Homo sapiens: one gene and its partner. The protein of the gene in region 2 interacts with the protein of the main gene of each other region in a biochemical or structural test. Each region holds a gene or a part of one and is shown on either strand. Other genes may lie near its edges.

Region 1 (7,346 bases), on a different chromosome or scaffold from region 2:
GCACCCCAATTCCACCCCTGCCGAGACAGCTTTCAGCGCCCCCACCCAGAAAAGCCTGCTCCCCGTTTCCATCTCTGTGGATGGCAACGCCAGGCCTCCGGTTCCTGAGGTCAAGCCCAAGGGGCACCCTGCATGCACCTTCCCTGTGTGTTCCACCCCCTCGCTGCCGCCCCTGCTCTGTACCACCACCATCCTGTGGGGGACTGTCACAGCCTCTGTAGTCTCCCTGAGCCCAACTTTGTCCCCTGAGGTCTGGTCTTAGCTAGTGGTCGGCCTCTCCCCTGCCCACGTCCCTGGAATGCCCCAAGCCTCGCACAGGGAAAGCTATGGGCTTACAAAACTCACGAGCCCCCCGGGGTCATTCTCCCAAACCGCCAAGGACGTGTTCTTCTCAGGGCCTTTCCCGGCTGCTTGCTCTGCCGGTCTGGAAAATGCTCTTCCCTAAGACGTGGTCTTTATCTCTGAGAGCCCCTCACTTCCCAAGATGCTCTGTGACGCAGCCACATCTGTCTCCCGCCCACCGAGCACACTCTCCATGGCGGCAGGATGCCCGGGGCGAGCCCCTCGTAGGGAACCAGGCTGGCACTCGGTGGTCCTTGCTACATGCTGAGCTGGGGTTGGGAGCCTGAGAGCTTCTGTCAACAACTCCCTCTAAAGGGTGGTGACCAGCCTGGGCCACAGACCCACCACTGCTCCACCAGGGCACTGTCACACGGGCACTGCACCCTATGACATGGCTCAGCACTGTGACTCACTGGTGCCACCAGGGCTGGCCACTGAGAAATGGGTCTCAGTGGCACCCGGGGTAAAGTCTTAAACAAAGAACCCCAGGGACACACAAAGGCTGGAAAAGTCGGCTCCCTGCTGGGAGCAGATGCCTCGCCTCCCTCGGAGCAGTACCTCCTGCACTTCCCTGAAGCAACCTCACCCGGGCCAGCTCCAGGAGCTTCTCACACTGCCTGGCAGCCCCCTGGCCACCGTCCCCAGACTTGGTGTGTGTGGCTGCCCTCAGTCCTGAGGTCCCGTGGGAGCTTCTACCTGCAAGTGTGGTGAGGCCAAAGTAGGCCACATCTGAGAGCAGCTCAACCTCCTTCCTCCACTCCAGCCACTTCCTCGCACCTGAGAGGAGAAACAGTATTAGTCCGGGGGAGCTGGTGGGCATCCTCTGAGGATGAGGGACCACAGTCCTCCCCCAGTTGTCTAGGCCCAGATCCAGTCCCACCCCTTCCATGAAGCCAACACTCACTCCCTGGCCTCCCTCTCTGCTTCTGTCTCCGGAGGCACCACCTTGACTTGCCTTAGCGTGAGCTGCAGACAGTCTGCGAAGAATCTCCCACCTGTGCTCATCTCTTGCTCCGGGATTCCCCTGAGCAACTGTTCTAGGGCCTATGAGGGCCACATGGAAAGATGGTCTGGGGTATTAAGATTACAGGCCAGAGGCCAACTGTCTAGCATCAAAAAGCAGCTCTCCAACTTGCTGGCTGTGAGGTCTTTCTGGAATCTCAATTTGCTCATCTATCAGAAGAGTAATAAGTCCTACTTGGAGGGATGTTTGAAGATTCAATATTTGTAAAACACTGGGAACAGTGTCTGGCACAGGGGTAAGTGCCAAGTGTACTGTAAAACAAGTAAGTACACACACAAAAAATTCTCATCATGTCACTCTCCTGTTCAGAATCCACCAATGGCTGCCCACCTGACACCCATGGGCCTCCCGGCACGGAGCCTGGCTGTCCTCTGATATTTACCCATGCTCTTCCTGTCCCATGGCACTGTTCCTTTGGCCACGACACCCCCACCACTGGGCTCTAGTGCCACTGCTCCCTGAAACGTTCTGCTGGGAGTTCATGCCTTTAACGACTGCCTGCCCCACCCCCCAAAGACTTGATGGCTTTGCCTTTTTTTTTTTTTTTTTTTTTTTGAGATGGAGTCTCACTCTGTTGCCCAGACTGGAGTGCAGTGGCACGATCTTGGCTTACTGCAACCTCCGCCTCCCGGGTTCAAGTGATTCTGTCTCAGCCTCCCAAGTAGCTGGGATTACACGCACGCGCCACCACGCCCTGCTGATTTTTGTATTTTTAGTAGAGACGGGGTTTCACCATGTTGTGTAGACTGGTCTCGAACTCCTGACCTCAAGTGATCCACCCGCCTCGGCCTCCCAAAGTGCTGGGATTACAGGCGTGAGCCACCACACCCGGCATCTTTTTTTTTTCGTTTTTTAATCGGTGATGGGGTCTGGCCCCGTCGCCCAGGCTGGAGTGCAGCGGCACAATCATGGCTCACTGCAGCCTCATCCCTCGGGCTCAGGCGATTCTCTTGCCTCAGCCTCCTGAAGAGCTGGGATTACAGACGCCGCCACCACGTCCGGCTAATTTTCAGATTTTTTGTAGAGACGGGGTCTTGCCATGTTGCCCAGGCTGGTTTCAAACTCCTGGGCTCAAGCGATCCTCCCGCCTCTGCCTCCCAAACTGCTGGGATGACAGGTGCTGCTTCATTGAGTACACTGGCTTCTGTACTCAGCTCCCGGCCTGGTGAGGCAGGCAGGGCCTGGCTGAGCCTACACTGGGGTCAGCAGGGCGAGGGGCCTGGGCTGCTGCTCAGGCCTAGGAAAGGCCGGGGTCAGTGTGAACCGGACCGAGGTATGAGGCGTTCGCGCCGCGGGCGCTCTGACCCCTCTGCTCACAGGGGAGGATCGGAGGGAGGCTTGAAGCACTTGCCAAGGCCTCACACCTGGAGGGGACAGAGTCTTCCCCAGCCGCTGGCGTCAGCTGGACCTGCCCTGAGCTGGGGACGGGAAGGGCTTGGGCGGGAACTGGAGGCCCACGCAGGTCCCCCGCGGTGTCTGCGGCCTGTGCCTCTGGGGCCACCTGGCCAGGGAGGGCAGGAGGTGCCCCGCACATCCCTGAATGGCCGCAGGGCAGGCGAAGGAGACTGCCGGGTCCCAGGTTGTGGGACGGGCCCAGGCGACCGTGACCACACACGGCAGACACCCCGCCTCCATGAGGGGCAACACCCCCTGGGCCGCTCGCGAGGACGTCCGGCCGCGCCCGGCCCTCACCCGCCAGGCTGTGCAGGGCGCCGCCCGCCGCGCTCCGCAGCCCACCGCGGTAGTACTCGTCCTTCTGCGCCGCGCGGATCACCTCCGGGGGGCTGGCGGCGGCCGGGGCCATGGCCGCGGGTTCGGGTGGTCCCGAGCAGCCACGCCGGCCACGCCCACGCCCAGACGGGCGAGAACTGATGACGGCACGACGTGGCTCTGCGTGCGGCGCAGACCTCTGCGTCAAGGTGCTGGGGCGGGGCCGGACTGGGGCTGGAGGCGGGGCCAGGGCCCGGGCGGAAGCGGGGCTGGAGTCCGAACCAGCGCAGCGCGGGGCGGGGCAGCGGGAAGGTAGTCGGAGGCGCAGGGCGGAGCGGAGCGGGGCGGGGCCCGCGAGCCGAGGTGGGGGCGGGGCACGCGCGAGGGGCGCTGGCGAGGCAGCGGGATGGGCTCGCGGCCGCGTGGTTGCTGCGACCTCGGGGTCCTACGCTGCCAGGGGCCCCTGCTCTGCTCCCTGCACGTCCACGGGCCGCCCTCCCACTGGGGACAGCGCTGCGGAGTGGAGACGCTGCAGGCCCATTTACGGCTGGGGAGACGGAGGCTTTCGCTTGGGTCTTCGGGAAGCCGAGCTCCCAGCGCCGGCCGCGGCGGTCCCGCCCTCGCGCCCTTTGAGCTGCGCGGGCTCTCAGCGCGGGTTGGCCAGTTCCGGGGAGCCGGTCGGTTTGGGGGCCAGAGGGGCACGAGGCGAGACCCGGGACCTTCCAGGCCCCGAGCAGCCGCCTTCCCCAGTAATCCTGCGCGAAAAGCACACGGCCGGCTTGGTGTGGACGCCCCCCTGGTGCCCACGGGAGGCAGGGCCTGGCGGGTGGGGGGCAGCCGGGAAGCCGCCGCGTGGTTCCAGGACGGGCGGAAGGTGGCCTTCCACCCTCCACCCTCCACCCTGCCTGGCCTGAGCCCCGCAGGTGCTCTGGGGAACCACATCGCAGGCGCTCCGATCCCTCTGCTCCCAGGGGACGAGCGGAGGGAGGCCTGAAGCACTTGCCAAGGCCGCACACCTGGAGGGGACAGAACCTTCCCCAGCCGCTGGCCACAGCTGGACCTGCCCTGAGCTGGGGGTGGGAAGGGCTGGGGCGGGAACTGGAGGCCCACGCAGGTCGCCTGCGGTGTCTGCGGCCTGTGCCTCTGGGGCCGCCTGGCCAGGGAGGGCAGGAGATGCCTGGTACATACCTGAATGGCTGCAGGGCAGGTGAAGGAGAAGGCCCTGTTTTTTGGCCCCAAGGGCAGCACTTGGCCCTGGAGAGTCCTGCAGGATTGCAGGAGGAAGGCAGGGCACGACAAGGGGGCGTCTGCGCCCCGCTGACCTCAGTGGGGAGGGCCTCCAGTTCCTTGCCTCACCTCTGGTTCCATCTACAGGAGCTCAGCTGTGGGATCATCCCCAGACTGGCACAGCCCAGTCACAAAGCCAGAGCCCCACACTGCAGGAATGGCCCCTCTTACAGGGAAGGGGCATGGCCTGGGTGGCCCCGCCCCGCAGGCCCTCTGGCTACCAAACCTCCCAGCGCCCCCGCGCCCCTTTGGAGTTCTGACCCCGCGGGTGCACCCGTGTCTCCTGGACACAGAGGCTGCCCTCTGATTGGGTTGAGCACCTTGGGCTGAACCCCTCATCCGTGGACCAGGCAACCCGGCATCGCCCACGTGGAGCCGCTGAGGTGATCATGTGTTCTGGTCAATGCTTAGATAACAGTTTGAGATGCCGCTCTGGCCCCTGGGTTCATGGCTCCACGTCTGATTCTGAGGAGGAGGCTTCGGCTCCTTTGGATTCACACTGGGTTCTATGATGGGCCCCTGACGGGAGGGCCTGCTCTAGGAGGCATCCCCCACCGCTGTCCTGGCTCAGGACTGCTTTCCCCACTCTTCTCATCTGCACCCTGGGCGACAAATCCCAGCCTCACAGTGGGAGGGGCCTGGGCAGGACCTGAAACAAAGTGTCCCAGTGTCTGCTGTTCCTGGGCAGGTGGGGCTTGGGGGTCCCCCACGGTTCAAGCCTTGGCTCTAGGCCTTGGCTGGGCCTTGTAATGGCACCCGCGACCCTCAGTTGCCTCACTCATTGGGGCTTCGAAGGCCTCTGGTGCCCCGAGGGTCCTTCCTGAGGGCGACTTGAATACGGCGGTCCTATCCTGGGATGGCCGGCAGGTGGCAGCGTCAGCCCGTCTGCTCTCCACCGGGCTCCCCGGTAGAGTTATAGGGGATTAGGCGGTGAGTTTTGCCCCAAAGGGAATCGAATCTAGATCAGAACCACTGGCGAAGTGGAGCGACCATCTGCCCGAAACAGCGGAGGGAAGGAAGCGCCTGGAGGGGGTCTCAGGGAGGTGGGGCGGGAGTCAGGTCTCCATGTCCTTCCTGGCTGACCAGGCAACCTGGGAGCTCTGGTTGGTTCCAGGGTTCTGGGGTGGGGCATGGGGGTCCTGCCAGGGGAGGGGGCGTTTGCCGCTTAGCACCCTTGCCTCCCTGTGGCAGCCTCCTCTTGAGCCCTTGGGACTTTTCACAAACTCTGTCCCTCTCTTCTTTGGGGATCGAGGTCAGGAAGGTGGAGGCTGTGGATTTTTCTTTTTTTTTTTTTTTTGAGACAGAGTCTCGCTTTGTCGCCCAGGCTGGAGTGCAGTGGCGGGATCTTGGCTCACTGCAAGCTCTGCCTCTGGGGTTCGCACCATTCTGTTGCCTCAGCCTCCTGAGTAGCTGGGACTACAGGCGCCCGCCACCACGCCTGGCTAATTTTTTGTATTTTTAGTAGAGACGGGGTTTCACCCTGTTAGCCAGGATGGTCTCGACCTCCTGACCTTGTGATCCACCTGCCTCAGCCTCCCAAAGTGCTGGGATTACAGGTGTGAGCCACCGTGCCTGGCCAAGGCTGTGGATTTTAGGGAGAGCAACCACAGGCATTGGGCAGAAGTGGCCAACAGGGCCCAGCCCCAGTCTTGGGTCTCTTGACAGCCATGTGCCTGGCCCCAGCAGGGGATCACCACAGCCTTTAAACCGAGCGTTATTCTTGTTGGCAGCGCCTTACATCCTTCTGGAGGAGCCTGCTCTTGAATCAATAAGCCCCGATATGCCTCACCATCTCTTGCCACTCAGCCTATGTGCCGCCCGGCTTCAAAACCAGGCTGCTGGGGACGCTGCACAGCAGTGCTTCCTGGCTGGCCTCTGACCGCAGCCTGCTGTGCCCTCCGCCGGCCCTGCCATTTACAGGGGGCTCTCACACCCATTCCATCTGAACTCCCCTGGGCTTCCGTCTTCTGGTCTGTGGAATGGGACTGGGTAATAATCAGCTGGTATTTATTAAGAGCCTGCTTTGCTCCTGCCCAGTGCACACATCGTCTGGGGTCTGGTCACAGTGCAGGTCTGGGTGGATGGGCCTGGGACGAGGTCCAGTTCTGCATTTCCAACAAGCTCCCAGATGAAGCCTGCGCCGGAGCAGGGTTCTCAGCCTCGCCCATCACACTCACCCACTTCCGCCCAGCAGCAGCAGGTGTGTTGTCCGACATCCTTCCTCTGGAGGGCCTGCGCTCCTCCGCTAAACCCAGTTCCGGTGCTGTGGGGAGCTCAGAGGCCGGGGAGGAGAGGGAGCTCGGGGTGCAGCCCCACGGTTCGTATCCCCATCCCCCCACCAACACCCAGTGCGGTGGGCAGCCCCGCAGGTGATCTGACGCACCAGCAGGTGCTGCCCCCTGTGCCCCCTCTGGTGGGGTGTGAGCACCACCGGAACAGGGGACTGCTGTGCCTGGGTTGCTGCCTGGCACCCAGCGGTCGCTCAGGACCCCGAGGAGGGCAGGGTGGGCCCAGGAGCTGGACGCAGCAGGTCGGGGTCCCTGGGTGGGCAAAGTGGGCGCTGGTGCTGCTTGAGGGGAGTGGCTCCTGCCCAGCATGGCAGTTCTGGCTTCAGGGGTGTGGCAGTGTCCCCTCCCTTCTCTTTAGCTATACATGGGTTTGGGGATTGAGGAAGGGCCACCCACAAGCTGGCCCCGAGTACAGGGACTGTAGGGTGCGGCCCTCGGGAAGCCCCTCGCAGTGCCAGCCACAAACCAGGAGAACGGGTTCGTCTGCCTGGCTGGAGGCCCTGGGAGCCGCACTCCACCCGTCTGTGGCAGACCCAGGACCTGGAGGTACCTGCAGAGTGTGAGCTGGGGAGGGTGGGCAGCGGGCGGCACTGGGCCCAGGGAGGGGAAGTGAGCCCTGGGTGGGCACAGTCAGGCAGAGGCCCCAGAGCCAAGATGGGGAGGGCGGGGCCCGGCAGCCAGAGGCAGGAAGTGCT
Region 2 (7,891 bases):
AGACCAGACTGCCAGTCAAGCTGTCAGGACTGTAGATGGGGAAAGAAATTAAAGGAATGAGGTAAAGTTTTCCTTGTTGCTTGGGATGTATTTTGTCTATATTCCTTCTCCCTGCTTCACTATACATGTGGTCAAAGGACCATTCAAAGAACCATGTCAAATCTGAACAAAAGGAATAGATGAGTGAAAAACTCAAGGTGTGAACATTAACTATTACGAACACATACATGCAAGGTAGAGGTAATGCCAACTCATTCATCTAACACTAAAAGACAAGTGGGCCGAGGTGGGCAGATCGCCTAAGGTGAGGAGTTCAAGACCAGTCTGGCCAACATGGTGAAACCCTGTCTCTACTAAAAATACAAAAATTAGCCAAGTGTGGTGGTGCACACCTGTAATCCCAGCTACTCGGGAGGCTGAGGTAGGAGAACTGCTTGAACTCGGGAGGCAGAGGTTACAGTGAGCTGAGACTGTGCCACTGCACTCCAGCCTGGGCAACACAGCAAGACTCTGTCTCAAAAAAATGAAAAGACAGTGGTTAGGCATAATCAAAACACCATTACACTTAAGTTCTTGGTTGTTTTACTAGTAAGAAGAAAGAAAAGATAACTTGGATGGAATTTTATCTCATCTTATTGACAGGCAGTAATAAGGGAGATGTCTGATAAAAAGAAAATATATTAAATTGAGTAAGAAGCAACATAGAAGAAGGTATTTTTATTGTATAGATGGGAATATGTTAGGAAGAAGTCTAATATCCCACACGGAGAAAGGCAGAGGACACTAGACATCCCTTCTTTGCCTCCACTTCCATGTAAAGAAACTACAGGGCTGGGTTTAAAAGAGCAGGATTACAGACAGGGCAAATGGAGCAATTTAGGGCTTTTCTCCTGAGGTTTCTTGTACATTCCAAAGGAATAGAAAAGGAACATGAAACATTTACAAACTGTTATCACTTCACAGAAAAGAGGTACAGAGAACATCCAATTTGCTTCTAGGTTGTCCAACTCAGATCATCAAAAGAGGAAAAAATGAAATAATTCAAGAGAGAACTTCTGGCCAGAAATAAAGATTGTGTACATTCACACATTTTCCTTGTGCTATTGGAACCTGAGAATGTGGATGGTGTGCAAGAGGGAAAGAAACTTACAATTATTTGATGTTGTGAGAAAAACATGGGGCTAGGACTGAGCTCTTTTAATGGGTGTGATGATGAGCAAGCCTGCTAATACCTTTAACGTTCAGGTACCAAATATGTAAAATGAAAAATACTTGTCCTCCCTACGGCAAGAATCATTATGTGCATCAAATATAAGCAAAACTTTTATGGCTAAAATAAAAGGATATGGAGAAGAAGGAATAATAAATTCTAATTCTGTTCATAAAGAAAAACATTTCAAATTTGTATTGATAAAATAAATTGAAACAGAATAGGGACATATTTGTAGCTTTTAGAAATAAATTAGCTGTGAATATATTATTTTTAAAAACTGTAATAAATGTACATTGAGTACAAATGAATAATTATCCCAAAAACCAGAATTTTAATGCTAGAAGAAAAGGCAGATCATCTCGTTTAAGACATAAATTTAATCTTCTTAACAAGAACCTTGTTATTCAAGCGGAACACCTAAATGGCTGCTCTTGTTAAAATAAACCTGAGGGTGGGCTTGCTTTGTCTCTCCCTGCACGGCTCCAGAAAATTTCTACACAAGTTCTCCTATGGAACAGTTTTAAAACCCCAGCTTGAGTACTAACACTAGTTTCTAAAAATAAGGAGAATACGGCCAAGAGGTAAAATTGTACAAAGGCAACTAGAGTCAGGACTAGAATCCAACTGTCTTGATTTAGTCTAATACTCTTCAGTCTACTAGTCTAGTATTCGCTCTATGTCCTGTTACTTCTATTTTTTTTTTTAAGAAAAAAATATGAAGGGTTTTTTTTTTTGACTCTGTAAATAATTCTTTCAAATCTCTTTCTGGCTCAAGATCACTCAACTGTAATCTTTCTGGAAACAAGTAATTGATAATATAGGTGAGATCAGATAAGTTAAAAGAGCCACCCCAAGTTCATTCTGTTCAGGATTAAGTAAAGGTAACACTTTAGGGGAAGGTGTTTAGACTACAAGCTGCGGTGTTGTGAGCGCCCAAGTATCATTTAATTGTCCGAAACGTCAAGATAAAATATTTCCGAGGGGCATCACGGAAGTTTAACAGAATGTGTTAGACTTGAACGTTCAACAGCTTGCTCATTTTGCCAAAAGCCCTTTCACTAAATGTGGGAAATTTGGAAAATGGTACCTCAATAAATAAACAAACAACGATTTTTAATTTAAGAACCCAGGAAAAAATGTTAACAATTCTCACATTCAGATTTCTTATCAAAAGTCAACGTGAAATATAACTAATTTATCGCAAGCAATTTTATCAGAAACTTTTCATTATCTCTTCCTCCATAAGAAAACCAAACTGCATTTACGTGCGCTTTCAACAGTGTTAGAAAACTAAGCACTCAAATTTTTTGTACTACATATAACACTTTACATGAACTTTCAGATATTAAGTAAAGTTTGGATCCTCAATTCTTTATAAAGCCGTTTATAAGAGGTAAATATCTTCACGACCGCCAAATGAGAGAAAAAGATTTCGAAGTTCGTCTCTTAAGTTACTACGTGGAATGCAGAGGGGCTCAACTGCAGCTGTGTGTGTGTTTATTTTTAATGCCGCGATCCTAAAAACATCTTTAGGAGTTTAGGTTTGCTTCACTGCCTTTCCCAAAATTCAGCAGCTTTGATTTGCCTTTTCCAGGGAGACAGGAAGCCAATAAACAGGGAAAAAAAAGCAAACGGCGACAATTACAAGGTCGTGAAACTCCACGACCTCCCAGCTGAAAACAAGACCTCGGGTTTGCACTCCGGCTCTCTAGGGCAGACACTGACCTTAGGAGTCTGCGAAACGCCCACGCTCCACGTAACTTTCTCTGAAACATTCTCTGGAAAGCTTGTCTTTTCCTAGCCGAATCTGGATTACCAAGGCTTCCGGAACTCGCAGGCTTCCGGAGCGACGCAGGAGCCGGAAGTGGCTGAAAAAAAAAAGAAAAAGTTACACCAACGAGAACTGCGCTTTAGCGGCGCTGCTGAAGGCACTGGATGGCCAAACAACCGCGAACGCCGACAAGCCGAAGAGCCGAAGGGCCGAAAAGCCGAAGCGGACACCCGCGCGCGGTGATTGGCCGGTTGGCCGGAAGAACTCTGTCTCTGATTGGCAGGAGAGTCACGAACCGGTCAGCCCCGGGTCAGGGGCCGCAAGTGAGGACACTACAAGTGTCGAGGGGCCTAGGGGAAGCCGGGGCTTGGGAGGGCAGGGCTTTCTCTGCTTGCGGACATCGCGAAGGGCCTCTGGCAGGCGCCGCCGGGTGGCGGCGAGACGCCTCCGCGCCTCCGGGGTTCCTTGTTCGCTGTCGGAGGAGGACCGGCTGAGGGATGGCCTGGTGGGGAGGGAGCCCTCGGGCAGGTGGCTGCGTCGGGCCTGGGGCAGTTGTGCTGCGCTTGGAGACCTGCCCGCCCTCGGGGCCTGTGTGCACAGGGAGGATAGGCTGTTTATCTCTGCAGGCTCAGGAAGGCAGGTAGCTGGCCCGTCAGTCATCCGCCCTGCAAAGCGCTCCCGAGAGACCCCGTAGAGCGGGCCAGCGCGCGCCTGGCCTGAGGTTTCCCGCCCCCGGAGGCCCTCACATCTCCCCGGTAACGCTTAGGAATTCGGGCAGCCAGCTCGCCTACCCCTGGGGAATCGAGGCAGAGCTTCTGGGAATGGGGTCTGAGGGAAGAGTGCTCACCAGGCAGTGACATGTAGCCGTTGAGGATCGCCACTGCCTTCTCGTTCTGTGGTATGAATGGCAGTGTCTCTCTAGAGAGTTAGTGCTTAAGTTTGAATGATGGCAGGCACTTCAGGATTCCAGCACGTAGTAGGGTTTAAGAACGTCTTAGTTCTTACCTCCAGTCTCGACTCACCGTTCCTACAAGGAACACTCACTTCTACGAAAGCTCTATTAGACATTCGAGGGAGAGCTTATACTGTAGAACCAGTGTTATTAGGAAAGTTTTTTTTTTTTTGCTTGTATTTTTATTTCAGAAACTACCCATGGAGCAGAGTTGCTAAAATAAAATTTATTAACTCTAATGCTATCCAAATTGTGAAACAATGGTACAAATGAGATAGAGTAGAAGCTACAAATTGATAGAGTATGTAGTTCACTTAGGGGTTTGGGAGTGGATTTTCTAGAGCTGCAACTGTCCAGTGTAGTAGTCACTGGCCACCTGAAAAGTGGCTAGTCTGAACTGAGGTCTGCTCTAAGTGTAGAACATGCACCAGATTTCTAAAGCGTGGTCTGAAAAGAAAAAGAATGTAAAGTATTTCATTAATTTTATATTGCTTACATGTCAAAATGAGAATGTTTTGGAAAATTTTAAATTACGTGGCTTCCATTATATTTCTATGGATACTGCTGTTCTAGAGAGTAAAAAAATCTCACTGAAGAAGAGTAGGCCTTTCGTTTAGCAACTGTGAAGAAAACCAACCACGCTGCACCTCTCAGGTAGCCTACAGATGTGCTGTGCTTCACTTAATTTTTGAGAGGGACGGGGGAAAATACACACAAAGACTTGATTGACATAGAGGACATTTTCAGAAAGCAAATTCTGGTTCATAGAGCCTTATGTATGTCATGTGAACATCACACAGTAGCGAATGAAAATAATAAAGATATCAAGAAACTTGAATCATATTTAATGAATCTCATTAAGAATGCGGGGAAACATGCAACAGTTAAAATTCTGTTGAAATTGTTTAAAATAAGTTCTAGATTTTAATGTTTAACCTGTAGATACAGTATACCTTCTTAATTTTCCCATGAGCTGGTGAGCTGAGGTTCCAGGGAAGCTTTGTTTCCAGTTTTTTAAAGATATATTTATTTTTCATTCATTTATTTAACAAAAGCTTTCTGAGGCCCGGGAGTTTTGCTAGGCAGTGTTGATAAAAATGTGAAGACAGAAAACAGACACGGCTCTTACTCTCTCAGAGCTAATTCATATCAGTTCAGAGGCAGTGAATAAGTAAATAATAACCAAGACAGAATATTTTCTTCTTAGTAAATGTTTACCTCTGTAAATGCAAAACATGAGTTATTTTAAACCTAGAATTTATATATTTCTAGTGACATGTTAAGAGTCTTTATTAGAACTTGGCTGTGGACTTAAAAATATTAGGAAAAAAATCAAAGTTAATTTGTTCATTAACTATGAGAAGTTAAAGAAGAAAAATTAAAATTGTTTTTTTAACCTTTACATAGAAAAGATGGAAACATTTTATAATAGCATTTTATATCCTCTTTAGCCTTTTAGCAACTTTTAGATTCTAAGAATTTAACAATAGAAATGTAAATAAGACATTGATTTATGTCCCTAATATAGTTTTAAAATGCTGACTTTAAGAAGTTAAATTTATTCTAGAATATTATGTAGTTCCTAAATCAATATATTTGAGTCTTTTAGGAAAAAGTTAAGTATGGATCTTATATTAGTTTACCATTAATACTATTTCTGTAACAAAGTTAGAAGCTCAAACCACCACCAATTTATTACCTTACAGTTCTGTAGTCAGAAGTCCAACATGGTTCTCAATGGCCTAAAATCAAGGTGTCCACAGGATTGTGTTCCTTTCTAGAGAGGTAAGGGAAGAATCTGATTTTTTTTTTTTTTTTGCTTATTCAGGTTGTTGGACAAATTGAGTCCCTTGCTCTTGTAGCTGTTCTCCCTGTTTCTTTGCTGGCTGTCAGCTAAGAGCTGTTTTCAGCTTCTAGAGGCCACTCACATTTCCTTGGTTATGGCCCTCTTCGTCTCCAAAGCCAGCAATGGTGGATTGAGACCCTTTCATCCTTGTAAATCTTTCTTTCTTCTTCTTCCATTGCTGTATCTCTCCAATTACAGCCTTTTAAGAATCCATTGGTTAGACAGAATCTCCCCCGCTCAAGGTTCATAACTTTTATTTACATCTGCAAAGTTGCTTTTGCGGTAATAATGTAACATATTCACAGCTTACAGGGATTGGGGAATGGATATATTTAGGAGCCATTATTCTACCTATCTCAGATCTCAATTGGGGCCATGCAGTATATCCAGTGTTTCATACCACTATTCTCAATACTTTATGTTAGAATAATAATATTGATAATAGGTAAATTTTGTTGGTTATATAATATGCTCAAGGTACTTTTCTGAGCCCTTTTACTAAATTCACTCATTTAATCCTCAGAACTACCCTAGGAGGCAAACACTGTTATTGTTCCCACTCACAGATGAGGAAACAGGTACTGAAAGCTGAAGTAACTTGTCGAATTTCTCACAGCCATTAAATGGTGAAATGGAGATCTGAACCTAGGTAGTCTGGTTCCAGAGCCTGTGCATGCTCTGAAGCTCAACATAATAAAAATAATTTCTACATACCTGGATTTAACTAAACATGTGTTGATGATACAGTGGCTATGAATTCAGGTTCTGACATCACCTTGTGGATTCAAATTCTACCTACCCATTACTGAATGACCCTGGGCAAGTTACTTGACCTCTCTGAGACTTAACAATAAACTGAACCAATAATAATAGTTGAGAATTAAACAAATACTATATGTAAGGTACTTAGAGCACTGCCTCTACATACAGTCATTCATAACAATAGAGATACGTTTTGAGAAGTGCGTCATTAGGCTATTTTGTTGTGTGAACATCGTAGAGTGTACTTACACAAACCTAGATGATGTAGTCTACTACATACCTAGGCTACATGGGATAACCTTTTGCTCCTAGGCTACAAACCCGCACAGCGTGTTACTGTACTGAGTACTATAGGTAGTTGTAACACAGTGGTAAGTATTTGTGCATCTAACCATGTCTAAACATAGAAAAATTGCAGTAAAAATACAGTATTATAATCTTAGGGACCACTGTTGTGTATGTGGGCCATCATTGACTGAAACATCATTATGCAGTGCAAGCAATTGCTAGCTGTAATTATTGATGACAATTCAACTTTTAAAAACAGTATTTATTATAAAAAGAAATGTTTCCTTTAGAGATCAGTCTTTCCTTGTAAAATAAAAACTGAAAATTAAAATTTTTACTTTAATACACTACAGTGCTATCTCCTTTCTCAGACTCTGATTTCTCCTCACTCTAGGCTAGCATCTATCGTTCTAACCATGGTACCTTCAGTGTTATCTGATCATGCATTCTAAATACTTTGTCCAGATCCTAGTATCTGCAGGCTAATATTCAAACTCTCTAGAAGGGCACCAGGACTTTTCACACATTCCAGAGACTCTCTCTTGCCATTCCTCTGCTGGGTATTTACACAGCCATCAATTCTAACTTTTCACTGCTCTCGTTTGCTATTATTATTCTTTGAGGGAGACTTATGTGTGTGGAGGGGACTCTGGGGAGTATGGACAATGTCATATCCTGGGTCCCCTTCCATAATGCCTGCTAATACCACTCCAAATTCACTCTCTCTTTTAATAATCTTTCCTGCACTTGCCTTAATTCAAACCCTCATTATCCTTGCACTTTAAGCCATCTCTTAACAAATTGGTGGCCTCCAGCCTCACTGCCCTTCAGGCTTACTATCCTTGCTTGCTGGAATGATCTCTAAACTACAAAACTCTATATGTTACTCTCCTTCTTCAAACCATTCAGTGTCCCCTCTGCCAGGTCCTACAAATATTACTCTTTTTTCTGTGCCTCTTGGTACCAGTTACATGCTTCTACCGTAACTTAAAAGGTGTCACACAGTTGTTTATTTAAATACATATCTTCCCTTCTAAATCAGGAGCTCATGGATAATAG

Evidence for each region. Proteins that work in one complex are often made in the same cells at the same time.
Region 1: the proteins of PEX2 (region 2) and PEX10 form a complex in vitro, tested with the Homo sapiens proteins (one study listed by BioGRID).

What each region holds. Positions count from the first base shown.
Region 1 is NC_000001.11:2,409,333-2,416,678, forward strand, and holds the start of PEX10 (peroxisome biogenesis factor 10), read right to left. Parts: upstream 3,233-7,346; 5' UTR 3,171-3,232; coding exon 3,059-3,170; intron 1,120-3,058; coding exon 1,039-1,119; intron 1-1,038.
Region 2 is NC_000008.11:76,997,052-77,004,942, forward strand, and holds the start of PEX2 (peroxisome biogenesis factor 2), read right to left. Parts: upstream 3,028-7,891; 5' UTR 2,939-3,027; intron 1-2,938. UniProt on the Homo sapiens protein: E3 ubiquitin-protein ligase component of a retrotranslocation channel required for peroxisome organization by mediating export of the PEX5 receptor from peroxisomes to the cytosol, thereby promoting PEX5 recycling.